Linked DNA regions of Homo sapiens. The protein of the gene in region 3 interacts with the protein of the main gene of each other region in a biochemical or structural test. Each region holds a gene or a part of one and is shown on either strand. Other genes may lie near its edges.

The links.
Region 1: of the proteins of AGT (region 3) and ECE1, one has a biochemical effect on the other in vitro, tested with the Homo sapiens proteins (one study listed by BioGRID).
Region 2: the proteins of AGT (region 3) and AGTR2 are reported together in a solved structure, tested with the Homo sapiens proteins (one study listed by IntAct).
Region 4: the proteins of AGT (region 3) and LNPEP form a complex in vitro, tested with the Homo sapiens proteins (one study listed by BioGRID).

What each region holds. Positions count from the first base shown.
Region 1 is NC_000001.11:21,234,964-21,242,682, reverse strand, and holds part of ECE1 (endothelin-converting enzyme 1), read left to right. Parts: intron 1-4,438; coding exon 4,439-4,549; intron 4,550-5,838; coding exon 5,839-5,937; intron 5,938-6,755; coding exon 6,756-6,833; intron 6,834-7,719. UniProt on the Homo sapiens protein: Converts big endothelin-1 to endothelin-1.
Region 2 is NC_000023.11:116,165,186-116,173,543, reverse strand, and holds the start of AGTR2 (type-2 angiotensin II receptor), read right to left. Parts: upstream 2,801-8,358; 5' UTR 2,728-2,800; intron 2,577-2,727; 5' UTR 2,517-2,576; intron 1,299-2,516; 5' UTR 1,264-1,298; coding exon 172-1,263; 3' UTR 1-171. UniProt on the Homo sapiens protein: Receptor for angiotensin II, a vasoconstricting peptide. Signals primarily via a non-canonical G-protein- and beta-arrestin independent pathways. Cooperates with MTUS1 to inhibit ERK2 activation and cell proliferation.
Region 3 is NC_000001.11:230,707,623-230,715,341, reverse strand, and holds the start of AGT (angiotensinogen precursor), read left to right. Parts: upstream 1-1,219; 5' UTR 1,220-1,256; intron 1,257-4,488; 5' UTR 4,489-4,518; coding exon 4,519-5,347; intron 5,348-7,719. UniProt on the Homo sapiens protein: Essential component of the renin-angiotensin system (RAS), a potent regulator of blood pressure, body fluid and electrolyte homeostasis.
Region 4 is NC_000005.10:96,940,642-96,948,360, forward strand, and holds part of LNPEP (leucyl-cystinyl aminopeptidase), read left to right. Parts: intron 1-7,719. UniProt on the Homo sapiens protein: Release of an N-terminal amino acid, cleaves before cysteine, leucine as well as other amino acids. Degrades peptide hormones such as oxytocin, vasopressin and angiotensin III, and plays a role in maintaining homeostasis during pregnancy.

The DNA.
Region 1 (7,719 bases), about 210 Mb from region 3:
CCTCAAGAGAGGCAAGGGCAAGTGGGAACCCTGAAGTGGGAGGGTCTGAGCAGGGGTCTCTGGATACCCCAGGGCTGATGGGTGAAGGCTGCTGCTCACCTGTTTCTTAATCTCCAGCCCTCCCCACTCCCCAACTGTGACAGAGTCTGGGCCCAGGCCAGGTCCCTCCTCCTTGTGTTCAGCCCAACTCAAAGCCACCTCCTAGCTGTGTGACCTTGGGTAGTCCTTACACCTCTCTGAGCCTCAGTTTTTTTAATCTGCAATTGGAGATCACTCCTGACCTCACCTCACAGGACTTTTGTGAATGGCCTTCATTCGGGAAAAAGCATAGAGCATGGGAAGCAGTGTGGTGTGTGCGTTTGTTCATCCTGGCAGGGAGGGAGCCTGCTGTGAGGAAACGGCATGGAATTTGGAGTCAGAAGATCCAAGTTTGAATTGTTTCTTCTAATCACACCTTAGGCAGATTGCCTCACTGGGGCAGGGGCTCAATCTCCCATCTGTAGAAAGGGGTAACAGATCCCTGCCTTGCTTATCCAAGGGCCGCCTAAGATTAGACGAGGGGATCCCTGTGAAGTCTCTTCTGACTGCTCAAGCGCTGCATGCAGCCGTTTCTCATCAGCTATCACCCATTTGTGACTTGAGACTTCCAGCAGGGAGGAAGGAACCCCTTGCTGAGTGCTCCTTGTATTACAGTGAGGAAGAGGTTAAAAAAAAAATTGCAGCCAGGTCAGGGTGGAGGAGGCTGCCTGGCTGCTCTTCATCTTCCCAGACCTGACTCATAGATCTCCTGCAAGATGCAGGCTTCCTGACCGGTCAGATCGATCAGACCCTCGCTCCTTTTGGAGATTTTCTCACCATCCTGTAGTACTTCCAGGACTTCGTGACCTGTAGGCAGAGAGCGTGGCCTCTTTGAAGGAAGACATTGGAGCCGGACTTTCTGAGTTCAAATTCCACCTCAGGCCGGGTGCGGTGGCTCATGCCTGTAATCCCAGCACTTTTGGGAGGCCAAGGCTGGTGGGATCACCTGAGGCCAGGAGTTCAAGACCACCCTGGCCAACACGGCAAAAGCCCGCCTCTACTAAAACTACAAAAAATAGCCAGGTGTAGTGACACACACCTGTAATCCCAGCTACATGGGAGGCTGAGGCAGGAGAATTGCTTGAACCTAGGAAGCAGAGGTTGCAGTGAGCCGGTATCACACCACTGCACTCCAACCTGATAGACGGAGCAAGACTGCATCTCAAAAAAAAAAAAAAAAACACCTCAACCACTTACTCCCTGGGTGATCCCTTTGGCCAAGTGATTTAACCTCTCTGTGCCACAGTTTTTTATCTGCAAAAAGAAACAGACTGGGTGCGGTGGCTCACACCTATAATCCTAGCACTTTGGGAGGCTGAGGCGGGCAGATCACCTGATGTCAGGAGTTCGAGACCAGACTGGCCAACATGGCGAAACCTTGTGTCTACTAAAAATACAAAAATTACCGGGGGTAGTGGTGGGCACCTGTAATCCCAGCTACTCGGGAGGCTGAGGCAGGAGAATCTTACTGTGAGCAGTATATGCAGTAGGGCCCGCTCTCACTCCACTGCTACACTTCACTGTGATTACTGCTGTGGATGGTGCAATTACATGTCTGTTTCTCTCACTGGATGTTCTGGGCATTTCAGTTGAGACCCAGGAGTACAGGCTCACTGTTGATTCATCTCTAGCTTCGAAAGACCTAGCACAGTCAGGATGCAGGGCAACTGCTCACAGAACGCTGGATGCGTAAATGAATGAAAGCTCGTGTGAAGGAATGGGTTTATCCAGAGAATCTCCAGAGAAGACGACACATAAGAAAGTCTGTCTGTGATTCAGCCCTCACAGCCTGGAGCCTCCACGGAGCTTCAAATTAGAGTCCCCCTCGTCCTGACATCCTGTGTGGTCGGCCTCGGCCAGACACAGACCATGTGTCCAGCTTTGGGCTTCTCAGCCGAGGGAGGGTAGGCGCGGGAGGGAGGGAAAGGCTGAGGGCAAGGCATCCAAATGGACACGTAGTTGGGAAAACTAAAAAGAACATGGGTAAGAAGAAGAGTGGCCCTTCCTTTCTTTCTTGCCTAGAAGGAATTTTTGTAGCTAAGGCATAATTTACATACAATAAAAATGCAGTGTACATTAAGTATTCAGTTCAGTGAGTTTTTGGTTTGGTTTGGTTTTGAGACAGAGTCTTATTCTGTCACCCAGGCTGGAGTGCTGTGGTATGATCTCAGCTCACTGCAACCTCCATCCCCAGGGTTCAAGCGATTCTTGTGCCTCAGCCTCCCGAGTAGCTGGGGTTACAGGTGCCTACCACCACACCCGGCTAATTTTTGTATTTTTAATAGAGATGGAGTTTCACCGTGTTGGCCAGGGTGGTCTCGAACTCCTGACCTCAGGGGATCCACCCACCTCAGCCATCCAAAGTGCTGGGATTACAGGTGTGAGCCACCATCCCGGCCTTTTTTGTTTGTTTGTTGTTTGTTTTTGTTTTCAATTGAGACAGTCTCGCTCTGTCACCCAGGCTGGAGTGCAGTGGCCTGATCTTGGCTCACTGCAACCTCCGCCTCCCAGGTTACAGCTATTCTCCTGCCTCAGCCTTCTGAGTAGCTGGGATTACAGGCATGTGCCACCACGCCTGGCTAATTTTTGTATTTTTGGTAGAAACAGGGTTTCACCATGTTGGCCAGGCTGGTCTTGAACTCCTGACCTCAAGTGATCCACTTGCCTCGGCCTCCCGAAGTGCTGGGATTACAGGCATGAGCCACCACACTTGGCCTCAATGAGTTTGACCAATGAAGTCACCCATGTAACCATCACCACAGTCAAGATAGAGAATATCCCCTTCTGCCTTGGGCATAGCATGCTAAAAAAAAAAAAAAGAAAGAAAAAAATGTATAAAAAATTTTAGAAAGATAGAGAACATTCCCATCATCCATTTGTCCAGCGCCCTCTGAGCAGCAGGTACCCTCATGCCCCTTTCCTGTCAGCCCCCAGCCCCCAAGGCTGGTGCAGCTGGGTGTGGACGGAATTATACACGATGTGCCTGGCTGCTTTTGCTCAGCTTGAGTCTGTGGAATTTATCCATGCTGTCGTATATATCAGTAGCTAGTTCATTCCTTTTTGTTGCCAAGTAGTATGTTGCTGTATAAAAATACCACATTTTGTTGATCCGTCTGCCTGCTGATGGGCATTTTGGCTGTTGTCAGTTTAGGGCCATGATGAATCAGACTGCCCTGAGCGTGGGTGGTTGTTAACCACCTGTTCTTTGGGGTTAAGAGGACATCACTTCCTCTGTCGTACGAGGGATTTATGTGAGCAGGGCCACCACACGTGGTCATATATACTGTCCACAGAGGGATGCCTGGCCGGGGAGTGACTGGGGCTGACATTAGCCCAGCACGCGTCCCTGGGCCATGCCCAGGAGGTTGCAGCCCACAGACGCCTATTTCCGGTTTGCACAGAGGGGTTGTATGGACTGTTGGGGCTTGTAGGCAAGACCAAGAAAGAATCAAGGCATTGCAATCCCGCGGTGAGCCAGGTGTGGTGGCTCACGCCTGTAATCTCAGCACTCTGGGAAGTCAAGGCAGGTGGATCACTTGAGCCCAAGAGTTCTAGACCAGCCTGGGCAACATAGTGGGATGATGTCTCCACAAAAAAAAAAAAAAATTTTTAAATAGAAAAAATTAGCCAGGCATAGTGGCCTGCACCTGTTGTCCCAGCTACTCGGGAGGCTAAGGTGGGAAGATCACTTGAGCCTGGGAGGTCGAGGCTGCAGTGAGCTGTGTGATCGCACCACTGCACTCCAGCCTAGGTGACAGAGCGAGACCCTGCCAAAAAAAAAGAAAAAAAGAAAAAAGTCCTGCGGTGTTGCTGTGGTGTTCTCATTTGAGGAGATCTTCAATGGCATTGGAGCCCTGGCCCTGGGGCAGTTTTTTCTGTGACTCAGGGTAGACCAGTCACTCTCCACCGCTCTTTGCCTCCAGGACTCCTGCTCTTCCCAGGAGGCAGGACGAGATGGGGGTAGGTAGGAGCATAGGATGTGGAGTCAGGCACGTCTCAGTTCTCATTCCAACAACACTTGTCACTCGTGGGGCACCCTGGGCCAGCAGCTGCTCCGTGCCGAGTGTGTTTCCCCATCAGTCAAACGGCTTGTAAGCCCCGAGGGTCATTGAATGGCTCAACGGGACACTATTTGTGAAGTCCCAGCACAGAGCCTGGCATTCAGGAAATGGCAGGGGGTGGGAGTGAGGGTATCAGTGGCCTCTTGGTCCGGTGACTAAAATAACTTTACTGGGTCGGAAAGCTCTCCCTGAACTTCCAGAACAAAGCATGGGCCCCACATGGTGCTACCTCCCAGCAAGAAAGGGGTTGGGAAACAAAGGGCTGGGGCCCAGCGAGCCCCCTGACTTGTGTTTTCCAGACCTGTCTTCCTCGCTGGAAGTTTTGCGTGAGTGACACAGAAAACAACCTGGGCTTTGCGTTGGGCCCCATGTTTGTCAAAGCAACCTTCGCCGAGGACAGCAAGAGCATAGTAAGTGCCTTCCCCGTGGACACAGGCTGTGAGGTCACACTTGTTGTGGCCTGCACAGACCTGCCAGTTCACACTCCAGCCCACCCTGGGCCTTTCCTGCTCCTGGGCAGGGGACCTTAGGGCCACAGCCTCAATGCAGAGGCTTCACTTCCTCGAGCCCTGGGTAATGGGAGTCTCACGAGGGCAGCTCTTCAGTGCCAGGCCCTTATCTGCACGAGCTCATGTGATCCTCCCAGCAGCCTGCAAGGCTGTGACAGCCATCCCCACCTCCAAGGGCTGTGAACGACCCAGAGAGAATGTTGGCAGAACAGCTCTGGCCCAGAGGGTGACATTTTTCTTATTTTGTGGGTGACAGGTTTGTTCTAGACAGGCAGAGGAGTGCCATGGCAGAGCGCCTTGGAGACAGCCCGGCCTAAGCTCAGATCCTGGCCTCACCGCTGGTCGGGTGGCCTGGGACAGTTCTTACATCATCTGCAATGTGGAGACGGGGGCATTCCTCCCACAGAGAGAGATTAAATGAGATGCCACACACTGGGCACCGGCATACAATAAGGGTTCAGCTAATGGGAGTGGTCATTTTATTGTTACAATCTTGATGACAAATAGTATTCATTATGTAGCTGTCATCTGCAGCCGGAGGTGAGCCAACCGCAATTCAAATCCATTACAGTGACTGGCCTGTGAGCAGCTGGGCAGGGTCTGAGTTGGGGTCTGCTGGCCCCTCTGCTCTTGTTGCCGCACAGCTCTGCCTTCCCCTTCTCTAGAACCTTCAACTTTCCATCTTCGAGCTTGTCTGCTCATGACATTGTCTCCCTCAAGAACACCTGTCTATATCCAGCCTGAGCATGGTATTTCCGAAGCTGCTCCTCGGAACATGAGTACTCTAGATCTTAAAGCCCGCTCCATCAAAAAGGAATGCTGTGGTCCAATAAGGCAATAAGGCTGGGAGAGGCTGTGTCTTCTCCCCTCTCTGGAAGAATCACGGTGCCTATTATTACCATATTAAAGGCTCTGAAAAGTACCACAGCAGAGACTTTTCCAACTTTCCCGAAGCTCATCCTAAGCTTATTGGAGCATGGAGCCCTGTGTGTGGAAGGCCAGTCCTGTCTTGCAGGGTGTTCACGTTAGGAGCGTGGTTTGGAAGCACAGCTGTGGCTCCCCTTCTCACCCAGCCTGACGCTTGGAAAATTGAGTTTAATCTCTGGCCATCATTGTTCTGCACGGGGTGCCTGTTGCATTTACCTGAGACCAGTGCGCAGACCTTACTGCTGTGATGTGTATCTCCTCAGGCCACCGAGATCATCCTGGAGATTAAGAAGGCATTTGAGGAAAGCCTGAGCACCCTGAAGTGGATGGATGAGGAAACCCGAAAATCAGCCAAGGAAAAGGTGAGGCTGGCCAGGCACTTGGAGGGGGTGCTGCGGCGTCCAGCACAGATAGAGGAGGGTGGGGGAAGGAGAGGCCGGTTTTTTTGTTTGTTTTTTGAGGCAGAGTTTCGTTCTTGTTACCCAGGCTGGAGTGCTATGGTGCGATCTTGGCTCACCGCAACCTCCGCCTCCCGGGTTCAAGCGATTCTCCCACCTCAGCCTCCCGAGCAGCTGGGATTACAGGCGTGCGCCACCACGCTCGGTTAATTTTGTATTTTTAGTAGAGATGGGGTTTCTCCATGTGGGTCAGGTTGGTCTCAAACTCCCGACCTCAGGTGATCGACCCGCCTTGGCCTGCCAAAGCGCTGGCATTATAGGCATAAGCCACCGCGCCCGGTGAGGCCAGTTCTGTCCGGCAGCACAGCCTGGATGCTGTCTCGCCTTCAGCGGGTGAGCGGTCTAGGCCTAGCAGGATTCGGGGTAGGCCTCAAGCACATGATTGCTTGGATGTCTGTAGAAGACAAACCTCGCTGAGTGTACGGGGAAAAGGTGCAGGAAAACGCAGCACGTCCCGTGGGTCGGGAAGGCTCTGGCACCCTCCAGTGGGATGGGAGTCAGGGAAGACTTCCCTTGGGAAAGTGACATTTAAACAGAGACCTAAGGGATAAGTAGAAGTTTTGCAAGGGGGAAACCTTTCCAGAAAAAGACATGAAAGCCCAAGGCAGGCAGGGCCTGGCTCTGGTTCCCCTTGGCCCAGACTATGAGCCCAGCACCCAAGTTGCTCAGGCTGGCCTGGTCGATGTTGCCGGGCACTCACTTCCTCTGTCTGTCCTGTCCAGGCCGATGCCATCTACAACATGATAGGATACCCCAACTTCATCATGGATCCCAAGGAGCTGGACAAAGTGTTTAATGACGTGAGTAGCTGCTGCCCTGCCCCCTTGCGTTCCTAAATGCCCCCTTAGAAAAGGGCCGAGGCAGGGCTGGGTCCAGATGGGGTGCTAGAGGCAGCATGGTTGTCAAAACACACAGGGATGATGTGGTGTGGGGCTTGGGTATGGGTCAGGCATGAGGAAGCCTCTTCTTCTTCTTAATTTGGCTCCTGGGTCAGCTGGAGGCCCTGCCTCCCCATAGCCACCATCCATCAGCAGTGCCCACCAGTCAGTACAGAACCCGTGCTGTGTGCCCCCTGGAAGTGGTCAGCTCCATTTAATATGTGGGAAATAATGGAGGAAACAGACCCCAGAAGGTGCAGAGAGAATTGGTGGCCCTCAGACATCAGGGGTGGGGTATGAAGTGGGAAAACCCCCACACCACCTCCTCCCTCCCTGGTCGTGCTTCCAGTTACCTCCTGTCCCTGCGGCCCTCCTCCACCTCCCCAGAAACCCGGACCTCTGATTTTGACTTTGAAATGCTAATGGGAAAGAAGCAGCTTAAATCCAGGTGCATTTTTAAGCTTGGTTTGGGCAATGGAGGTGGTTGATACATCCCTGCTTATTAGAACTTTTGGCAAATCACTCAGTTAGGTGGATTGTGCTTCTGCCTCAAATTATGAAGTTTTATATCTTCTTGTGATTGAAATACTTGAATTCAGGTATTTAAGAAAAAATTTTTTTTGAGACAGGGTCTCATTCTGTTGCCCAGACTGGAGTGTAGTGGTGCTATCTCAGCTCACTGCAACCTCCGCCTCCCAGGCTGGCTCATATTCATGAGCCACCATGCCCAGCCTGAATTCAGGCATTTAAAAATCTAATAACCTCTCGTCATGGTTATATTTAGAACCTAAGACTATAAAGACTCATT
Region 2 (8,358 bases), on a different chromosome or scaffold from region 3:
AATGGGCAATTCCTGAAAGTCACTGGACGATAAAACATAGTTACATTTGGTTTCAGAAGATTCAGAAAAGATTAGGGGAAATTTTATTATTTTATTAAAACCACTTAAAAATAATTCTGGTGAGCCTCAAAGCAAGTAGCCATGTTGATTACATGCATTTTGCTCTCACGTTTAAGACACAAAGGTCTCCATTTCTCTAAGAGAACTGCTTTTCCGGCAAGACATACTCTCTCTTTTCCCTTGGAGCCAAGTAATTGGAACCCTAAACACACTGCGGAGCTTCTGTTGGAACCGGTTTCCAACAAAACAATACAGAAACGGATTAACGCAGCTGTTGGTGAATCCCAAGAGGATGGCAAAAGGAAGTGCCAGGTCAATGACTGCTATAACTTCGCAGCTATTAATGACACCCATCCAGGCCAGAGCATCCAGGAAGGTCAGAACATGGAAGGGAAGCCAGCAAATGATGAAGGCCAGAACAACAGCAGCTGCCATCTTCAGGACTTGGTCACGGGTTATCCTGTTCTTCCCATAGCTATTCGTCTTCAGTAAGTGTTTTCTAATTCCAAAATAGCATGTTGCTATGAATATTAAAGGGATAATAAAACCAAGGATATTTTTCATTAAGGCAATCCCAGCTGACCATTGGGCATATTTCTCAGGTGGGAAAGCCATAATGCAAGCATTCACTCCTAAGTATTCAATGGTTCTGACGTCTCGAAAATAAAATGTTGGCAATGAGGACAAACAGGCCATACACCAAACAAGGGGAACTATATAAGATGCTTGCCAGGGATTTCTTCTTTGAGACAGAAAGGGGTAGATGACAGATTGGTACCTATCAACACTCATGCAGGTGATAAAAAAAATGCTTGCAAACATGTTCAGGGTAAGAAAAGAACCAAAAACTTTGCACATCACAGGTCCAAAGAGCCAGTCATATCTATAAGAATAATAGGTTGCCCATAGAGGAAGAGTAGCCAAAAGGAGTAAATCAGCCACAGCGAGGTTGAAGATGTATATGCTAGAAACCTTTTTAGGACCCTTTTGACAACAAAACAGTGTAACCACGACAATATTGACCAGAAATCCAATTACAAATATAATGTAGTAAAGAATAGGAATTGCATCTAAATGCTTATCTGATGGTTTCTGTGAACAGTTCAAGGTAGACTCATTGTTGCCAGAGATGTTCACAAGCCCGAAGTGAAGACCGCTGGTAATGTTTTTGCTAGTAGTGGCAAGGGTGGAGTTGCCCTTCATATTGAAATGTCAGCAGCTCCTAGTTCTTATGCCTTCTGTGGAGAAAAAACATAGAACTCTTAGAACACATACAGAGCTGAGGACATCCTTGAATCATTAGCATTTTGAATGTTTGTCAAAAGCAAAAAAAAAGTGAGTGATTATAGAAAACATTAAGAAACAGAGCCATGGCTTGTAAAACAAGAATTCATTTTACCTCTTGAAAAAGGAGAAATAATTTTCCTGATAGTAGAAAAAAGACATTTCAGAGATTCAAAGTTCTGAATAAAACTACCTTTTGCCCATCTTTTCTATGATGTTTTTGAAAGATTTAAAGAAAATTAATATTTCAAAAGATTAGTCAGGGCAGGAAATGTGTGAAACAAATAAGAAACCCAGAGGTAAGAAAAGTTAATCTTTCAAAAAACACTTGAGCATATATCTCTGTTTGTATACTTTCTAGAAACCACACTGCTGCTTGCTATTGCATAGAGAAATGCTCTATTTAAGTAACTAATTACATACAAATCACTACAGCTGTGGAAAATATAAGTAACATAAGCAATGGAAAAAATAAGTATATAAAAAACTAAAAGAGAATATGCCAAAGGAACATATTGTGATGGGGAATCATGGTTTGTCTTTAATAATTAAAAATAATTCCTTTAGTTTTACTTTTCTATTGTTTTCACAATAATAATATAGTTAAGAAGAAGTTATGAAATATATTTATATTTCTAAGTCTTCTCCTTTTAATAGAGAATATTAGTTTTAGATATAGATATCTAATTTTGGTCTATTTAATATCTAAACAATCCATTTTCAATTAAATCAGATAAAGAAAAAAACAGCCAAACCTATGTTAGGTTCAAGTAGAAGTAGTTTAGATTGCTCAGTGAAATGAGAAATGAACATCAATGATTAATCATGATATAGTCTTATCATTTTTCTTTTTCTCTCTTTTCGGTTTAACCGAACTGAATAGCCGTTGCTCTCAAACGTTACAGTGTTGAGGTTTTTGTGATTTTTTTCACTAGAAGCATTATTTTAAAACCAAAAAAAAAAACACATTAGCTAAAGATAAGCATACAAAGGAAACACTATTTACTTTAGATAGTTTCAAAATACATGCAAATAAGCTACCCAATTAAAAGTGTAATATCTAAAGAACCTCCTAATAAAGAGCAAAACTTTTATTTTGCTCTAAAGATTTTTCTTTTGACCTAACAAATTAACATAAAAGAATCAATAATAAATTCCACTTGAAGACTTACTGGTTGTTGAAGTTTAAAGCAGTTATCATAAATCAGCTTGCTTAGTGCCTAAACACACTCCTGTAAGAGAAACAGCAGCTAAATAATTCAGGAGTTTTGCAAAATACAGTGTTAAAACACAGGAAAAACAGAAGTTCATCCATAAAAAATATTTTCATTTAATGTATGTTCTACTTTCCAAGTAAATTATATATAAATTGTTCATACTTACCTTCAAAATTCAGGCTGCAGAATGCTTTGAATTCTGTGCTTACTCGTTCTCTCAGACGCTGGGACGTAATAGCACCAGATCTCTGGTTTCCTTCTTATATGTTTGGTCTGTCCACTGGGAGCCTTCAACCTACATAATTCTAGGGCTGACTTATGAACCCTTGCCAGCTTTCCAGAGAGGTTTTTTTTTGTCTGCAAAACATTAATCTGAAATTCTCACTGTCTCCAATCATAACAGCTCATTCAAATAAATCTCAAACAAAAAAAATGAAGTTTCCACAAATGTGCTAGAGAATTTTGAAGTCAGTGGCTTACTTGGTAGGAGAAAAATATAGTAATTATTTACAGAATTTTCTCTTCCTTTTTTCCTGATATTGGCATTCTAATAGAAATTAGTGAGTAGAGACTAGGAAATTTATTATAGTAGCAAAGTCTTTGTTCATCAGCTTTCACAACCTTCATTACTTTCTGAAATTTTTACCCCTGTTTATTAAAGAATGGTAGGAATTTTACTTGAAGTCTACCACTTCTAAAATTTCTCCCTTGCTTTGCGCAGTTTTTGTTGGCTTGTTGCTGGAGGGTTGGAGATTGCAGGAATATAATTTTTACACGACCAAAAAGAGGTTTAGTCTCCTTTCATAGGTCTCTGTCATATTTGTGGTTTAAATACAAAGCACATAAAGTGAAGAGGGATTCGCTAGCTATTTCAACCTAGATCACTGTTGCTGCTGTCTCTTGTGGCAGTGGGGGCAATAAACTACACAACCAATCCAGCAGAAGCAAGAGTGACAAAATGAAGAAAGATAAGAACAGGTGATGGTAGTGATAATACTAGCTGACAATAAATGTTATGTGCCGAACACTGTGATGAGTTATTTATCATCAATAATTTAATAGAGAGGCAATATAGCACACTGGTTAGTAAATAGCCTCTGGGATCCAACTACCTGGCTTTACAAACCCAGCTCTACCACTTACTAATTCTGACCTTGGCCAAGTTACTTTACTTCTTCATGTCTCAGTTTCTCATCTGAGAAAGGAGAATGATATAAATTACCTACATCGTAGAGTAGGAATTTTAAATAAGCTAATGGAAAATTAAATGAGCTAATATGTTTAAAGTGCCTAAAATCATGCCTAGCATATGGTAGGTGCTATTACAAGCTATTCATATTAGCCCCCACTTTACAAATCAGGAAACTAGGACTCATAGAGTTTAATAACTTTTCTGAGATCATACAGCTATTAAATGAAGACACTTGCATTTAAATCAAAGGAAACTAATATCAGAACTCACGCTGTTTAGCCTCTATACCACAAGAGGAAGCACTAGATGGTCCCTTAGTCTCACTCTTTGTCTTGGCAAAAAGGAAACGTGGCATTTACAGAAAATCACTGATGACCATTCATAATCTATCATAAAAGCATCAAAGAAGGGGAAAAGAATTGGAAGAATTGTTATGTGGGGAAACGTATTTTTCTTAATTGTATTGCCCAAATGGAGACCACAGGAAGGAGAAACTTGTGACTAGATGGCTTTCTATAGTTAGTACAGAGAACCAGAGAACCTAGAGCACATTTTAAATGGGCAAAAAGATTCAAGTTATTTCTGTGGATCATATTTTTCAGATAAGCAGCAAGAATGCACCTGTCCATGCTGCAGGCCACAGGTAAAGAATGAGGGCAGGCTCTGAGGAAGTAGCTGGGCACCTAAGTATGGAGTTCAGCAGAACAAGGAAGGAGAAGTCAGTGTTGATGACAGAAGACAAAATTGCAAATGGCATGAGACAAATCACATGGCTTTTGATATCTGTCTGTTTCTCCATTAATATTAAAGTCAATACTGTAGCACACAGGCAGATGAGATCAGTGAGAAGTCATCGTTATGTGAAAAATACAGTAGGATTCAAAGGTTTGCATAGGCCATCATAAAGTTTGTTTGGTAAACAGTTTGAACATTGTCAAAATGCCCCTAATATATGTATGCACCATTTTACTAAATCTCAAAATATTTGTTTCCTATGCTCTGGACAGATTCAGTTGAGGCTGAGGCTCTGTTAAAATGATGGAAAACTTATGTTTCAGAAACAAATGAGGGGGCACATATGTTTATCAGCAGGAAAGCTGAGATGGAAACTGTTTTCACTCATTGTTTAAACCTGGTTTCTCCCTCCATTTCAAATGTTTGTTTTTGCCACATAAAGGGGAAGTTTCCAGGCCAGGGCCTCCCGAGTGGTCACAATGGGTCAGATTCTCACCCTGCTCTTTTTCTTGTACCCTCTTAGGCCCCTTGCAAAGAAACAGCCAGGAGGTGAGCTATAAAATTATGAGAACAAACTACAGGCTTGTCTCCGGAAGACCTAGCCTTGAACACCCACAAGGAACAGGGGACCTTGTCTAGAGCTTTTGTCCTTCATTACAGTAAGTTCTGACATAAATAAAGTTTAAAGAGGTACATATTTCCCAGAAGATTAAAGGGCCATTTACTCTGCGTCTTCATAATCTTAGGAGTAATTTTTTTCACAAGTCAAAGAAAAATTTTGTAACTGCAGAGAATTAACAAAAAGTTTATAAAAAGAATAGCAATAATATTGACACCACTTGAAGAAATACTGTATATTATTGATTCAGCAAAGAACTCCCAGTTAAGCCAACAATGTAAATACACTTGAGAGTCAAATAAGTGTCAGTCCTGGGAAGCAGTACAACACAAAAAGTTCATTCTCCTGGGAGTAGGGAATAATTTTTCTGCTGGTAGACTTACTTAAAAAGTTTCAGGCCATTTGAATAAATTATGCAGCTCTGCAGGACAAGTGTAGCTGAGCTAGCAGAATTAAATAGTAAATCACATTAAATTAATTTTTTTCTAATGAATACCTGTTGTTTATTGTGAGATTACTTAACAGTAAATTTTAAAGGACTAAGCTAAAAAAGTAAATGTTCTTGAGAGAAATTCTTCCTCTGCTAGAAGGTTACAGAGTTCAGAACAAATTTTATTTGCCGCCTCACCTCCACCCACACACACAGATGAAACTTCAAAGGAGAAAAGAAATACATAAATGCAAAAATGCGTAAAAATTCTAGACATAGTGCCCTGGTTATAGAGGTAAAGATTAGAGGTACAGATTACGGAATGATTTTAATATATATGGGTCTTCCTTTTTAATCTAGGTCTCTCAGAGTCATTTTAACTTTCCCCAACCCCAGCCACCACACTGAGTGCCAATATCATTGCCACTTCTCTCAACTTCAACACACACACACACACACACACACACACCATTCATACCCATGTACCCACGTACATACTTTATACCAACTTTTCTTTAATTCACTTACCCATAGAGTAGCCTTGCTTTAATTGTCACTGGACTTTTCCTAACCTGGGGGTCTCTAAAAGGAGGGTAGTTAAGAAGATTGCCCATTATTGATGAATCTTTGCATATTATTTTTGTGCCTGTCTGTGAAATGTCACAATTAAAGCAAATGGAAAAAAAAATAAGGTCTTTTATTCAGAAATAACAATCAGATTGGCCATTTTGTAGAAACCAGCTTAAAATTCAGTGAAATGCCCAACATGAGTGATTATTTTCATCAAACTACCTCTTTGTCTACGCATCACATGAAAAGTGACACAGAGGACTATTAAGTAAGTTAAGGTGAAACTGATGTAGTGAGATGAATGGATGTCAGACTCAGTACATTCTTGAGACCAGCTGCTTCCAGCTGAATCTGGTCCCAAGAACATAAGGAGAAGGGAGAGTTCTAATTTCCCTTTGCCCCAAAGACAGCTTCAGGCCTGAGCACCATGTTCAGACTAGAATCTTGCAAAAGGCACCCTAGTTCTATCCTCAAATGCTATATAACCCAACTGGTGGAAAAAAATTTTAAATGAAAATTATCTATATTTTTGTTTACATTCCAAATATCAGCTAAATGATTTGACATTTCTCCCACTGATATGACTAAATTAAATAGCTTGACTAAATTATCCAAAATTGCCAATTGACTAAATTGGCCAAACCAACAAGCTGTCTTGGAAATATTTAAACACCACTCTTAGGCGATGGGGATGTTTTGGGGGGATGTTTTGGGGAGATGTTGTCAGGTTAGAACTCTCATAGGGCAGTGGATCAACAAATTGTTAAGCTAGAGTTTGGTCCTTGAGCTTTAGGTCTAGATATTGAACTTTCTCAGAATACCCAGGCTCTCAGTGATGGCTCATGTCAATCAAATTATCTCAAAACTGATATAGTACTTTGATTGTTAATTTATTACTTTGCAATAGAGATATACTACTTTCCAGTGACCACAAAGATTGCGTTCCTTATCTGAAGCACCCTCTTCATCTCCATCCCAATATTAGGAAACAAGGTAAATCTGGCTTGGTAACTTTGCAATCAGATCAGGAAAGCTGGTAACTGGGAACCTATTTTGCTTTAGTTTCGGGAAATTTCTGTCAGGGATTATCACTCGGGTTGCCAGATTGATGAGCCCTCCAAGTCATTCTCTCAACAGTTTTGCCTCTCTGAACCCTGTTTTTCTGGTAGTCACCCCATTCTGTTGATACATTATTTGAAATATTACTATTATTGATGAAGCTATAATTAAGTCCCTGTCCAGGTGGCCTAGAAGTAATTCAAGATCTGCTTTGATTGATTGGACAAATTCTCAAAGCTGGAGATTAGAGAGAACAATCCCTCACCAAAGAGACAGGGAAAGAGGCAAAATAATCATCTCTCCAAAACTGACCATCAATTCAGAGCAAATGGTTATTTAGCTTTGTTTAAGGGAGTCATTTACCCCAACCACTTTTCAAGCTCCTAAAAGGATACAAAAACAAAAAAGAGTTGTACAATTTTGGATATTTTTGCTTTTGAGCTGCAAAACAACGTTGTGCACATGTATCCTGAAACTTAAAGTATAATAATAATAAAATTTGAAAAAAAAAGAAGATAGAACAAGATGACAGGAAGTTTGGGGTGGTGTTCTGGGTGGATCTTGAGGTTTTTACTCCAAGGAAATGAAAACAGGAAGTTTATCACTAGGAATTATGAGAGTGCTTGAGCTTTTAGATATTTACCCTACAGATATTTGAATTCGTGGTTTTCAATAAGGATTTGTAAAATGTACAACGGGAAAGCAGAATTTTTACGGTAAATAATTTGCAATACACCCACAAAGAAACTAGCTCATACTTGGGTATCTAGAAGTTGACAGCTTTCTTTACAATTAATTTATTGCATGTTGTTTCAGCAGTAACACTCCTATTTTTTATTGGTTATATTTTATACTGATCACACAACTGAAATTATTCTTCTTTTAATTGTTTTTTTAAACTGAGATATAATTTACATATGAAATGCACCGTTTTAAAAATATATTTAGTATATTCATGAAGTTGTGCAGCTATCACCACTATATAATTCCAAAACATTTTTATCACTTCTTTTTATTATTATTATTATTATTATTATACTTTAAGTTTTAGGGTACATGTGCACAATGTGCAGGTTAGTTACATATGTATACATGTGCCATGCTGGTGTGCTGAACCCATTAACTCGTCATTTAGCATTAGGTATATCTCCTAATGCTATCCCTCCCCCATCCCCCCACCCCACAACAGTCC
Region 3 (7,719 bases):
AGACAAGTGATTTTTGAGGAGTCCCTATCTATAGGAACAAAGTAATTAAAAAAATGTATTTCAGAATTTACAGGCCCATGTGAGATATGATTTTTTTAAATGAAGATTTAGAGTAATGGGTAAAAAAGAGGTATTTGTGTGTTTGTTGATTGTTCAGTCAGTGAATGTACAGCTTCTGCCTCATATCCAGGCACCATCTCTTCCTGCTCTTTGTTGTTAAATGTTCCATTCCTGGGTAATTTCATGTCTGCCATCGTGGATATGCCGTGGCTCCTTGAACCTGCTTGTGTTGAAGCAGGATCTTCCTTCCTGTCCCTTCAGTGCCCTAATACCATGTATTTAAGGCTGGACACATCACCACTCCCAACCTGCCTCACCCACTGCGTCACTTGTGATCACTGGCTTCTGGCGACTCTCACCAAGGTCTCTGTCATGCCCTGTTATAATGACTACAAAAGCAAGTCTTACCTATAGGAAAATAAGAATTATAACCCTTTTACTGGTCATGTGAAACTTACCATTTGCAATTTGTACAGCATAAACACAGAACAGCACATCTTTCAATGCCTGCATCCTGAAGGCATTTTGTTTGTGTCTTTCAATCTGGCTGTGCTATTGTTGGTGTTTAACAGTCTCCCCAGCTACACTGGAAACTTCCAGAAGGCACTTTTCACTTGCTTGTGTGTTTTCCCCAGTGTCTATTAGAGGCCTTTGCACAGGGTAGGCTCTTTGGAGCAGCTGAAGGTCACACATCCCATGAGCGGGCAGCAGGGTCAGAAGTGGCCCCCGTGTTGCCTAAGCAAGACTCTCCCCTGCCCTCTGCCCTCTGCACCTCCGGCCTGCATGTCCCTGTGGCCTCTTGGGGGTACATCTCCCGGGGCTGGGTCAGAAGGCCTGGGTGGTTGGCCTCAGGCTGTCACACACCTAGGGAGATGCTCCCGTTTCTGGGAACCTTGGCCCCGACTCCTGCAAACTTCGGTAAATGTGTAACTCGACCCTGCACCGGCTCACTCTGTTCAGCAGTGAAACTCTGCATCGATCACTAAGACTTCCTGGAAGAGGTCCCAGCGTGAGTGTCGCTTCTGGCATCTGTCCTTCTGGCCAGCCTGTGGTCTGGCCAAGTGATGTAACCCTCCTCTCCAGCCTGTGCACAGGCAGCCTGGGAACAGCTCCATCCCCACCCCTCAGCTATAAATAGGGCATCGTGACCCGGCCGGGGGAAGAAGCTGCCGTTGTTCTGGGTACTACAGCAGAAGGTAAGCCGGGGGCCCCCTCAGCTCCTTCTCGGTCTTGTCTCTCTCAGATGTAACTGAGCTGTGGGCTAGGAGGAAAAGGCCGGGAGGAGGCACGGTGATGACTGAAAAACCTCTCCCCTCTCATAAGACCAGTCATCCGGACGCGGGCTTTCCCCCACTCGGTGCCCACCTGGGGTCTTACAGGAGGAGCTGCTCCTCCTCAGCAATAGGACAAGATGGTCAGGTCTTCCTGCTTCCGCTGAGAAAAGTTAGGGTCCTCAGGAACGGAGCAGACTGGTACAGGAACAGAGTCATCATGGCCAAGAGTCCACCGGGTCCTCTTGCCATCAGGAGGAATAGCAGGGCTTGTGCAGGAATTGGGGCTGGAGGGAAGGGCCGGGCTCGGTCAGTCTCCAGCTGGGATCCCCAGAGTGGTCACCCTACCCCTCCCTCGAGACAGACTGCCTGACTGTGTGTCATCAGGCTGGTCACCATCTCCCTGAACCTCGATTTGCTCACCTATAAAATGGAACTAATAACGATGCCTGGGCTCCCTGTCTCAGGGGCTCTGGTATAGCTGAAGAGAACTAATATAACATGAAAGTGCTTTCTAAGCTTTGGGATAAGCTAAAAGGCAGATTCCAATTTTATTCGAGGGCAGCGTAGATTGGTGCTTCAGCTCGTGGATGACAGAGTCAGGGGGCCTGGTTCTGAGTCCTAGTTCTGTCTCTTCCCAGCTGTGTGACGTTGAACAAGTCACTGGACCTCTCTGTTCCTCTGCAAAACAGCATGAACCAATTCATTAACTACTTCTCCAGGATGCAGTAGGTCCCAGGGACTATCCTAGGAATGTGGGCTGTATTAGTAAACACAACAGCGGGAACCCTGTTCCGGGGCTCACATTCACATCAGAGCAAACAGACAAAGACGCTGGACAGAATAAGTGCATAACTACATGGTACAGAGGGTTATAAGGAGGGAAAAGGGGAGCTGGATGAGAGAGTTGAGAGTGCCCGGTGTGGTGGGGAAAGCTGCAGGGTGAAATACTGCATCAGGGAAACCTCAGGGAAGGTGAGGACTATGGTGAGGTCAGAGGGGTTGATATGAGAACAGTGCCCTGCAAATGGCAGGCACCACAGGAGCATGAGCCGTCATCTTCACCTTTAGCATTCAGCCCGGGAGAAGTAGGGAGACATAGAAGGGGCAGGTGCTGGCCAAGAGGCAGGGGCAGGAGAGGAGAAGGCGGAGGGGCACTCAGGGCGAGGGTGTCAGGCCCGCCACCCCAGAGCACCATTACTCCCAGGACGCGGCTGCGTGCAGACCTGGAACCAGCCTAGGGAGCAGCCGCAGATCACAACTGAGAACAAACGACAGTCTCTGCCTCAAAAATGGCCCATGGAATTGCGTCTCTGGAGACGCTGCCTGAGCAGGAGCAGCACAGTGAGCGGGCTGCATCGACCAGCGCCATCCAAACCCCGAACAGTTGGCGCTTGTCAGGCAGGACTTCCCAGCAGTCGGTTCCCACAGGTTTCCCCTGTTGACCTGATTTGATGTGACTGTCTAGATTAGGTGTGAACTGGTGGCTTAGGCTTCTCTGCACAGAAAGGCCTGCAAGCAGCAGAGAGAGTTTTCTGTTCCATTTTTCCATGTCATGTGGCTCTTCCTGAGAACAGCGGATGGAGTCAAATGCATGGGGAGTGGGGTGAGATGGTAGCTGAGGTCAGAATTTGGCATTTGAATGACTGAAGCAGAACAAAACACACCAGGTACTTCAGCAGCTGCACCGTGTTGAGGGCAGGTGCTGGTTACGGGTCTGGGTGAGGGAAGCCAGCTGCCAATGTAAGAAGAATGACTGGGTATGCTTAGATGAAGCAGAAAAATCTAGGCATCAAGGTGGCCTTGAGTCAGTGATGACACGCTACAGCTCCAAGGAAGCCTGGCCTAGCCCTGGGGGGACAGAAAAGGCCAAGAAGTGACGATATTGCAGTACACCCCCCTCCACAAGAAATGAGTGAGATGTGGTACAAAATGTTAGAATTGAATGAATCAATAGAATAAACGTTCATCCCTTCAATCAAGAAGAGTCAGATGAAATGAATTAGCAGGGCCAGCCCAAGAACCTCTTCTGGGGGTCTCAGGGTAGCTTTCATTTGTAGCAGCTGAGGCTGAAGCCCAGCTGCAAGGCCTTTGAGAGAACGTGGTGCTGGACCCGTGTCTAGGGCAGGGGTTCTAAACCCTGCTTACATATCAGAGTCACCTGAGAATTTTCTATTTTTTTTTTTTTTTTTTTATACGTGGTCCCAGCACAGACTAAGGAATCCAACTATCATTGGGCAAGCCATGCTAGGTATGCATGCCTTTGGGGCTCTGCAGGGGATAGCGCTATGCAGGGATGGTTGAGAGCTGGTTTTGGGGTTGAGACACGTGGGAAATACTTGGACTTTGGGCTGAGCCTGTGGTGCTCAATCCCGGCTGCATGTTGGGACCACAGGGAGATGACAAAACCATCCCCAGCCCTCACCCTAGGGCCCTCGAATGAGCATCTCAGGGGTCTAGGAGGCCTCCACAAAGACCTACTGATTGGCACACACTTGTTTCTCTAGGAAGAGAACTTACAGCTGCAGGCAGGAGCATGTCTTAATCTGCTTGGGCTGCCATAAGTACCACAGACTGGGAGGGTTTAACAACAGAAATGTGTTATCTCACAGTTCTGGAAGCTAGAAGCCTGGGAGCCAGCCATCAGCAGAGTTGGTTTCCTCTGGGTCCTCTATCCTTGGCTTGTAGATGGCCGTCTTCTCTCTGTGTCCCCACATGGTCTTCCCTCTGTGTCCCCACATGGTCTTCCCTCTGTGTGTGTCCATGTCCTCATCTCCTCTTCTCATAAGGACACAGGTCATATTAGATCAGGGCTCACCCTCATGGCCTCATTTTAACTTAATCATCTCTTTAAAGATCCTGTCTCCAAATAATGGTCACATTCTGAGGTCCTGGGGTTGAGGACTTCAACACGGGCATTATGGCCGTTGGGGGAGGTAGGACATAATTCAGCTGATATTGGTGCATTTTGCACTTGGATCATGTAGATATTTTCCATGGAGCTTTGAATCCATTTCTTCTTTTTTTTGTAGACATGAATGGATTTATTCTGGGCTAAATGGTGACAGGGAATATTGAGACAATGAAAGATCTGGTTAGATGGCACTTAAAGGTCAGTTAATAACCACCTTTCACCCTTTGCAAAATGATATTTCAGGGTATGCGGAAGCGAGCACCCCAGTCTGAGATGGCTCCTGCCGGTGTGAGCCTGAGGGCCACCATCCTCTGCCTCCTGGCCTGGGCTGGCCTGGCTGCAGGTGACCGGGTGTACATACACCCCTTCCACCTCGTCATCCACAATGAGAGTACCTGTGAGCAGCTGGCAAAGGCCAATGCCGGGAAGCCCAAAGACCCCACCTTCATACCTGCTCCAATTCAGGCCAAGACATCCCCTGTGGATGAAAAGGCCCTACAGGACCAGCTGGTGCTAGTCGCTGCAAAACTTGACACCGAAGACAAGTTGAGGGCCGCAATGGTCGGGATGCTGGCCAACTTCTTGGGCTTCCGTATATATGGCATGCACAGTGAGCTATGGGGCGTGGTCCATGGGGCCACCGTCCTCTCCCCAACGGCTGTCTTTGGCACCCTGGCCTCTCTCTATCTGGGAGCCTTGGACCACACAGCTGACAGGCTACAGGCAATCCTGGGTGTTCCTTGGAAGGACAAGAACTGCACCTCCCGGCTGGATGCGCACAAGGTCCTGTCTGCCCTGCAGGCTGTACAGGGCCTGCTAGTGGCCCAGGGCAGGGCTGATAGCCAGGCCCAGCTGCTGCTGTCCACGGTGGTGGGCGTGTTCACAGCCCCAGGCCTGCACCTGAAGCAGCCGTTTGTGCAGGGCCTGGCTCTCTATACCCCTGTGGTCCTCCCACGCTCTCTGGACTTCACAGAACTGGATGTTGCTGCTGAGAAGATTGACAGGTTCATGCAGGCTGTGACAGGATGGAAGACTGGCTGCTCCCTGATGGGAGCCAGTGTGGACAGCACCCTGGCTTTCAACACCTACGTCCACTTCCAAGGTAAGGCAAACCTCTCTGCTGGCTCTGGCCCTAGGACTTAGTATCCAATGTGTAGCTGAGATCAGCCAGTCAGGCCTTGGAGATGGGCAGGGGGCAGCCCTGCGGACATACCTGGTGACCACCCTTGAGAAGTGGGGAAGTGGCTGCTCCGCTGGGTCCCTGGATGGGCCGTCCACCTCCTGGACCTGCTGCCCTACTATGTGCACGACTATACAACATCCTTTTTCTTACATCATTTAATCCCCTTATGATGTGGTGAAGAGGTATTTGTGCCTTTGTTTACCAGTGAAGAAATAGAGACTCGGAGAAACAAAGTGCCTTGCTCAAGATGGCACAGCCACCAGTGGGGGTCCTGGGATTGAAACCCACATCTCCTGGCCCCACAGCCCAGTTCTACACTCAGAAGGGTCAGGTTCATATCTCTTGAGAAGGTCAGGAACTGGGGTCCCTGGCCCATGCAGAAATAAGCAATTGGCTTGCTTAAATCCCTTTCATGTTAGGAGGGGCATTACTGAAAACCCTCTACTACAAAGATTGTTGATTTTTTTTTTTTTTTTTATTGAGACAGGGTCTTGTTCTGTCACCCAGGCTGCAGTGTAGTGGTGCCATCATTGCTCACTGTAGCCTTGAACTCCTGGCCTCAAGCGATCCTCCCACCTCTGCCTTCCAAAGTGTTGGGATTAAAGGTGTGAGCCACTGCACCCAGCCACAGATTGCTTAAAGCATTCATTTAACAAATACTTGTTGAGGATTTGCTACTTGTAAGACTTTAAGCCTGGCATCTCAGAGGAGGCCAGAGGAGGGCTGTATAGGCCCTGCCTCCAGGCTTTTAAAGGTCAATGGGCAAATGCCTAGGATTTGGAGCTGCAGGGAAACGTGCTCCACAAGGTAACTCAGGGAAGCCTCGGGGCTCTCAGAGGACAGAGGTCACTGGGGAGCGGAGAGCAGGCCTTGCCTGGCAGTGAGGGCAACAGGGCTGGTGAAGCTAGGAGCAAGCATGATGAGCCCAGCCTGCAGAGTTTGGGGCAAGGAACGAGGATGGGGCGGTTGGCTTGGCATGAGTGTTGAACCAGAAAATGGGCCTGGGGAGGGCAGAGCTGGAGACACTTTGAACGCCATGCTTGGTAGGTGTGGGAATGGGGACGCGTTCTGTTCAGAGGTCATCCCGGAAGCCTGCCGTGTGCAGACTGGAGGCAGGGAGGATTGTTTGAAGGTTACGCAAGAGTCCAGGCACACAGTCACGGGAACACGTGCTCAGGGAGCAGCTCGGCAAATCCATGGGTGGGGTGGGGCTGAGGGGTGTGTCTAAGAGACACTGAGGAGGCTCTGTCAAGATGTTAACCTCGTGAGGGACAGAGAGCCAGGCGGGAGGTGAAAGACAAGACTGTGGAGAAAGAGGTTCAGTGGCGCATAGTGATTTTTCTTACCACAACAACCTCCTTGAGGTCTTTCCCTTCGGGTTCAGGGAGAGGTGATAGATGGGGGGATTGCTCAGCCCTGGCACTGACTGGTCACAGGGGCAGAGGCCAGCCCGAGGGTTGCCCGGTTGAGGGTGGCAGCACACTGTGCAGGGCAGAGCAGGGACACATGGACTTAGCCTGCTGTCCCTAGGAGAAGTGCTGGGAGGAGCGCTCACTGAGAAGGAGGGTCCTGCAGAAGGCAAAGGCAAGAAAGCCAGTGGCATCTGAAATGGGTCTCCCTTCGAAAGAGAGCACATCCACCTGACCCAGACCGCAGAGCCAGGCCAGGAGGAAGAGGAGGAAGAATAAAAAAGCCAACCACATCGGGACTCAAAGGAAGCCCAGGATCCTCGCCGGCCTCCACCGCATGCTGCCCTGACCCTGCCCCACTTCCTAACTTTGCTGGCCTCAGTTTCCGTCAAAGGAGGCAGCCACTTCCTGCCCACATGGTCTGTCCAGTGAGGAGATCGGGGGCTGTCTCGGGACCTCTAGGTTTCCCTTTAGCAATGATGTTCTATTTACATGACCTCAGCAGGCAGCTAGATGTGTCCCACTAGAGAGGACCTGAGGATCTGGGGCCTGATGGGCTCCAGGGTACCGTCTGCCCAGTGCTTGCTGTGCTCCTGAGCATGGGGCGCTGGCCCTGGTGGTTTCCATGACACCAGGTCCTGACTTGACCTCGACAGATTTACCTAGCCTCCGGATGAGAATGGTGAGCTGTGCATGTCAGACGAGCAGAGGGAAGACGGCAGCCACTCTCATGTCAAATCCCAGCGTCTTTTGGGAGGCAGCTTCCCTTTTTTAGTTTAGTTTGTTGGAAGAAAAGAATTGTCCCTTTCCCCCCTCTAAACTAAAAGCCTTGCCAGCCCAGGTGGGCAGCACCGAGGTCCCTGCAGGGAACGTGCAAGGGGA
Region 4 (7,719 bases), on a different chromosome or scaffold from region 3:
CTACTAATTTAGTGTAATACTCCTATTAGGAAACAGCAGTATTAACCCTGTCTATGAAAACATTAGGAAATTGAGATTTGAAAGAGTTTAGCCAAGATTACCCCAGATGTTGGGATGGACCTAGATGAGGCCTGTGGTTCTTGGCAGTCGAGGTGAGGTCAGTGCAGCTATGTTTTGTCAATTAGTCACCTCATGACTTGAAAACTGTAGGGCAGCAGTCCCCAAACTTTTCGGGACCAGGGACCACAGTCGGGGGGATGTATGTATACTTTCTAGTTTGTGATATATTCTAAAGGGGAGAAGGTTTGGGGATGACTCAAGTGCATTATATTTATTGTGCACTTTATTTCTATTATTATTGCATTGTAATATACAATGAAATAATTATACAACTCACCATAATGTAGAATCAGTGGGAGCCCTGAGCTTGTTTTCCTGCAAGTAGACAGTCCCATCTAGGAGTGGTGGGAGACAGTGACAGATCAGGCATTAAATTCTCAAAAGGAGCACACAACCTAGATCCCTCACATGCGCAGTTCACAATAGGGTTCGTGCTCCTATGAGAATCTAATGCCACCACTGATCTGACAGGAGGTGGAGCTCAGGTGGTAATGCTAACGATGGGGACTGACTGTAGAGATGAAGCTTCACTTGTTTGCCTGCTGCTCACTCCTGCTGTGTGGCCTGATTCCTAACAGGCCAGAGACTGGTACTGGTCTGTGGCCTTGGGGTTGGGCAAACCTACTGTAGGGGGCTGGAGTTGAGCTGATACTACTAGGCCTTTCCATAGTATAATTGGAGCAACCAGAAAGACACAGTCTTTTATTTATTTATTTATTATTATTTTTTTAATTTGAATCCGTAGATAAATTTCAGCAACTTTTCTGAAAGTTTGCAAGAAGCCAGGATTGAGAATGAAGGGACATTTTGGAGCCCTTGTGGTGGTACAGTTCTTTTTATATCTAGATCTTGACCTAGATCTACATATGGCCGTTATAGAGAGTGTTGCTTATTGCCTTGGTGTTTCTGGACAGTAAATGGAACATCAAGAGTTCTCTGTGTCCATGGAAGGGTGGACAGGATTCCCTTGTAACCTTATCCATTGTTGTAATTCATTTGTGATTGTCCTAGCAGCACCTGAAGGACTTTGCATTTTACAAAGATGTTTAGAGAAAATTGGAAGAGGAGAATCAATGATGAAGATGAAAGAAATGTGGAGATTGGGGGTAAAGGAAGAAGCTGATAGGCAGAGATTTTAAAAATGGTCATGCCTTGATCCTTGCAAGTCTTTGGTTCAGAAATGAGCTTCAGTTGGAGAGCAGGACACTGTTGTATGAGGTTGAAGACAGAGTCTAGGTTGGAAGGGGACAGGTAGGTAGGTCTGGTTGGATTAATGGAATTGGGGGCTCAGGGGACAAATGAGTTAAGATTGGCATTTGGGAGCCTTGCCAAGAGATAGAAAACATTTGCCAGAAATTTAAGCATACTGTCTTTTTTATAGTCAGAAAATTCAGTCACTCGTAAGTTGGGACTGTTCACTTGTCTGAATGTTTTAGATTTAAAGAAAAAATATAGCTCTTTGATAAACAACGTGGTGTGGAGCTGTGGTAAGCCTGCTCTTGCTCCTGACTCACCGCCGCTCGCTCTCACCAAAAAACAGGTTGGTCAGGAGATACAGAAAAACGCCCATGAAGCCAGAGGTGGCAATTCACTGAATTAGAATCACTCTAGGCCCAGCGCGGTGGCTCACACCTATACTCCCAGCACTTTGGGAGGCTGAGGCAGGCGGATCACCTGAGGTCAGGAGTTTGAGGCCAGCCTGGCCAACATGGTGAAACCCTGTCTCTACTAAAAATACAAAAATTAGCTGAGTATGTTGGCACGTGCCTGAAATCCCAGCTACTCGGGAGGCTGAGGCACAAGAATCACTTGGACCCAGGAGGCGGAGGTTGCAGTGAGCCGAGATCGTGCCACTGCATTCCAGCCTGGTGACAGAGCGAGACTCCATCTCAAAAAAAAAAAAAAAAAAATACGAGAACACTTGGACACAGGGTGGGGAACACCACACACTGGGGCCTGTCATGGAGTCGGGGGAGGGGGGAGGGATAGCATTAGGAGATATACCTAGTGTAAATGACGACTTAATTGGTGCAGCACACCAACATAGCACATGTATACATATGTAACAAACCTGCACGTTGTGCACATGTACCCTAGAACTTAAAGTATAATAAAAAAATAAATAAATAAAAAGAATCACTCTAACGAGCTGCAAGGTAAAATCCTTGGAGAAGGTGTGTGCCGACTTGATCAATGGATCAAAGGAAAAGAATCTAAAGTGATAGGACCAGTTTGAATGCCTACCAAGACTTTGAGAAACATTACAAGAAAAACTTCTTATGAAGGTTCTGAGACATGGTATTGTTTCCAGATGAGAATCCATAAGTGACTCATTGACTTCCACAGTCTTTCTGAGATTGTTAAGCAGATTACTTCCATCATTATTGAGCCAGGAGTTGAGGTTGAAGTCACCATTGCAGATGCTTAAGTCAACTATTTTAATAAATGATTACCAGTTGTTTAAAAAAAAAAAAAAGAAAACTATAGAGAGCTATCTACCTTTTGGGACTACCATGGTAGCAGTCATTTGCTGTTCCTTTTTTTGGGAGGGACGGGAACAGGGTCTTGCTTGGCTGGAGTGCAGTGGCACGGCCACAGCACTGCAGCCTTGACTTCTCAGGCTCAAGCGATTCTCCTGCCTCAGCCTCCCGAGTAACTGGGACCACAGGTGCACACCACCATGCCTGGCTAATTTTTGTATTTTTTGTAGAGATGGAGTTTTGCCATGTTGGCCAGGCTGGTCTCGAACTCCTGGGCTCCAATGTTCTGCCTGTCTTGACCTCCCCAAGTGCTGGTACTATAGGTGTGAGCCAGTGCGGCCCTGTGGCCAGCCTACTATTCTTTATAGCCTGGCTTTGCTTCACTTTTCTACTGGTGCTTGTGATAGAACAATGAACCAATTAATTTTTTTAAAATTCCATCCTTAACATGTAAATGAGGAGGAAACCAGGTCATTTGCCAAATAAGGAAAATTCAAGCTTCCAAGGGAGTTTCAAAAAACAATGGAGGATCAAGTTCAATTGTAGGAGACTTTTTGAAATTCTTTTTCTTCTAATACATATTGCTTAATGAAGGTACTCCTGGGCATTCCACATATTTCAAAAATGTAGTCACTGAACCAGAACTTGAATCAGTTGTCTGAATTTCTCTGGATTGTGGGGCTCAGAGTCTTCTCCAGCCAATGATCTGGGGTGAAGGAAGTTAAAGAAGGCTTCTTCAACTGAGGGAACAGAAGAATGAGGAGTGCAGTGAGAAAAGGATGCCTCTATGGGTTGGGTGTGCTCCCTTCCTCTTGCAGCAAGTGATGAACAGTGCTATGTGGGAGCATTTCCCGGACAACTGACTCAGGTGTCATTCAGTGCCATAGAGAAAATTTCTGGTAAGGAAGGAGGCTTAAGCCATAGTATTTCTCACAGCTGAAACTGTTATTTTGTCAAATTTAAAACAGTTGTTAGTATATTCATCAATGAAACATCATTACATTGTCAATGAAACATTTCATTGTCAATGAAAAGAGTCAAACTGTAAAATCTTTAAAGAGGCTTATTCTGAGATAAATAATGTGTGACCAAGGCCCAAAGCACAGTCTCAAGAAGTCCTGAGAACATGTGCCCAACATGGTTGGGTTACAGCTTGATGTTATACATTTTAGGGAGACAGAAGTTATAGGCAGACAACAATCAATACATGTAAAGTGTACATTGGCTCAGTCTGGAAAGGGGATAACTCAAAGCGGGGACTTCTATTCCAGTTCATAGGTGGATTCAAAGATTTTCTTTTTTGTTTTTCTTATTTTTGCTTTTTTTTTTTTTTTTTTTTTTTTTTGAGACAGAGTCTCATTCTGTCACCCAGACTGGAGTGCAGTGGTGCAATCTCAGCTCACTGCAAACTCCGCCGCCCAGGTTCAAGCAATTCTTGTGCCTCAGCCTCCTGAGTAGCTGGGATTATAGGCATGTTGCCACCACACCCAGCTAATTTTTGTGTTTTTTCAGTAGAGATGAGATTTCGCCATATTGCCCAGGGTGGTCTTGAACTCCTGGCCTCAAGTCATCACCCACCTCAGCCTCCCAAAGTGCTGGGATTACAGGCATGAGCCACACATGTGGCCACATTCAAAGATTTTCTGATTGGCAGTTGGTCGAAATAATTAAGTTATTATCTAAAGACCTGGAATCCATAGAAAGGAGTGTCTGGGTTAAGATAAGGTAAGGGGTCATGGAGACCAGGGTTCTTAATATGTAGACGAAGCCTCCAGGTAGCAGGCTTTCAGAGAATAGATGGTTATTATCTCTTATCAGAACGTAAAATGTGCCAGACTCTTAGTTAAATCTCTCCTGGATCAAAAAAAGACCTGGGGTGGTGCAGTGGCTCACACCTGTAATCCTAGCACTTTGGGAGGCCAAGGCAGGAAGATTGCTTGAGGCCAGCAGTTCAAGACCAGCCTGGGCAACATAGTGAGAGCCTGTCTCTACAAAAAAATTAAAAATTAAAAAAAAAAATTAGTCAGGTGTGATGGTATGCACCTGTGGTCCCAGCTGCTTGAGAGGCTGAGGTGAAAGGATCACTTGAGCCTGGGCAAAGTGGAAGTGAGCTGTGGTCATGCCACTGCACTGCAGCCTGGGCAAGAGAGTGAGACCCTATCTCAAAAAAAAAAAAAAAAAAAGAGATCAGAAAGGTCTTTTTCTATAGAATGTTCCACACAAGAGACAGCTTTGCAGGGCCATTTCAAAATAGGTCTAAGAAATATATTTTGGGGTAAAATACCTTTATTTCTTTCACAGCCTGCTATCTGTTGTGTGATGTTATACTAGAGTCAGTTTAGAATTTGGTATTTTATTGCTACAAAGAGTGTTTCGTCAGTCTTAAGATCTCTGTTTTAATATTAATGCTGGTCAGTTGTGCCAGAATTCCAAAGGGAGGAGAGTATAATGAGGTGCGTCTGACCCCCGCTTCCCATCATAGCCTGAGCTAGTTTTTCATGTTTACTTTGGAATGCCCTTGGCCGTTCAGTCAGAGGGGTCCATTCGGTCAGTTGAGGGGCCTAGAATTTTATTTTTGGTTTACAAAATCATTCCAAGATCCTCTTTAGAGGAAAAATTTATAGAGATTAGTGGGAATGATGAGGAGAACTCAATCTTGAGAGCTCAATCAAAAGGAGATGTTTAAATATCTTTTTAAGTTGGTATTGGTAAAGTGCTTTGAAGACAGAAAGAATGTAATACATGTCTGGTGTCTGCTTGTCCTATAATTGTCGGAAGGGCCTCAATGATGAAATAAGGGAGGCTGCCATGACACTTGAGTCTTGGTGAGAGGAGCTAGTGTGTCCACATTTATCAAGATCACCTGCAGGAGTTTGGGCTGGCCCCCTCTTATTAGTAGTTTCTCTGTTTTTTAAACTGGAGGCTCAGCGCCTTAGTATCTAGATTGGGTAGCTACATTATGAAGATAACTCAAACTGAACAATAGAGTATTGGGTATTAGTGGGAATAAGAAATGCATTGCTCTTTAAAGCAGCAGCCTCACTTCCATCTGCATCAGTACAGGATACTGAGAGGCTTGGTAGCATTCCACTTGTAGGAAGCACACAGAAAAATAATTGAATATAGAAAAGAGGGTCTAGTGTGACTTGGGGATTAGATAATAGAGCATGTTGAATTAGATGGAAATAAGCACATGTTCACTAAAGTGTGGCTAGCTTTGTTCCAGTCCAGTTGTTCACTGCAGTTGGGCATAATTCTGTTTTAATTAATTACCAATTCAGGAAATATTATTGCGATAAAGACTTGAAGAATTTATGCATAGAATCTTGTCTTGGCACATCATCGAATGACAATGACTATTAGTAGAAAAAATGTAGTTACTATCCCAGCCTTTTGACTAATCCATAACTAATTTTTTAAGTTGGTTAATGATAAGCAAACTGGCCCTCAGTCAGTTGTAAATTGATGACAAAGTTGTTACTATAAAGACTGAAGACTGTCGTATACCTGGTGTTTTATCAATCCAATGAGTCACATGGAAAAGTATTACAAAAAATTATCTGCAAGGTAATTTTTTGTTCAGATCCTTCTGAGATCTGGCAAATAAATGTATTCACCAACTGAGATTTCTTGTTTAACTCACAAGTTTTCTGTATACATTGAAGAGTTCTTATAAATTTCCTTTGCAGATCCCATTCAGTGATATGCATTCTTTGTTAAATAACTCACAGATACTCATTATGTCTAATGTAATTTTTCATTTTAAATAAGGAATTATAGGTTAAGATGTTCTTTTAAGACTATAGTATAGCGAATTGATGGAATTTAAAAGTAAACTTTTTATCTTTAGATCTTGTGAAAGTATTTGCAGCTATGCAGATTTGCTTGAGAGATTAATAAGCATAAATATTTAGGCATCATTGACAATGTAAATTACTTTATATTGCTAAATCTAACAGGGGCCCTAAGCATTGTTAAAGACTGGCACCCTATATTGTGAGGAAAGATTTAAGAAATACTATGGAATATAAAGATTTTTTGTTAATTTGATTGGGGGGACAAGTTTGTATAAATATAAATGTAAATAATTTAACCTAGGAAAAGAAAAAGAAAATTGAAAATTGGAGCTAAAATAATTTGATTTTTCCCTCAACAGGGTTATTGGCTGTCTTTTAAGTGACTAAAAGAGCGTATCTTTATGTGAATTTTAGGCATGGTCATATGATTAATACAAGGATAAAGCAACCAAATGCTCTCAGTATTTATTCCCGTGCTATTTGTCTGTTTTTTAGTTCATGGAGTATTGTATTGTACTTGGTAATTTGATGCTTTTGAGATGTCCTTTAGACAGATTTTTAACTACAGGACTTCCTCTGTAGAATCGACAATGTGTTTCACTCTCTGTGGCATTGACAATGTTTTTGAATGCCTAATTGTTCAGTAGAACTCCGTGGTTATTATTACAACTTTGTACATTATTATAAATATTTTATATTAGTTGTATATTCCACTGCAGATAGCAACCAGAAAACTAAATACAGAAATATTACATATAGAGAGAATATAATGTACAAAAAAAATCTTGGGAGATGAGTGCTTTGGGTTTAATTCTATTTTACTGAAACCAGAGAATAATAGGATTCAAATCTACCTAATTTTTCTATTTTTCTGATTTTCCATTTTTCTCTTTTTGAATTTTTTCCTTTTCACATTACTTTAGTAATTTGTTCTTCATCTCTTATTTTTATCACCTAGACAGAAAATATAGCAAAGCATAAATCATTTTTCAGGTCACCATGCTTCATTCTTCTTTTATTGGGGAAGGGGCAGTGGTGATCCGGGAAGAAGCATAGTGTAAACATTTTAATACAAATTTCTCTTTTTTTTTTTTTTTGAGATGGAGTCTTGCTCTGTCTCCCAGGCTGGAGTGCAGTGGCACGATCTCGGCTCACTGCAACCTCTACCTCCCGGGTTCCAGTGATTCTCCTGCCTCAGCCTCCCGAGTAGCTGGGATTACAGGCATGCACCACCATGCCCGGCTAATTTTTATATTTTTAGTGGAGACAGGGTTACACCCTATTGGCCTGGCAGGTCTCGAACTCCTGACCTCAGGTGATCT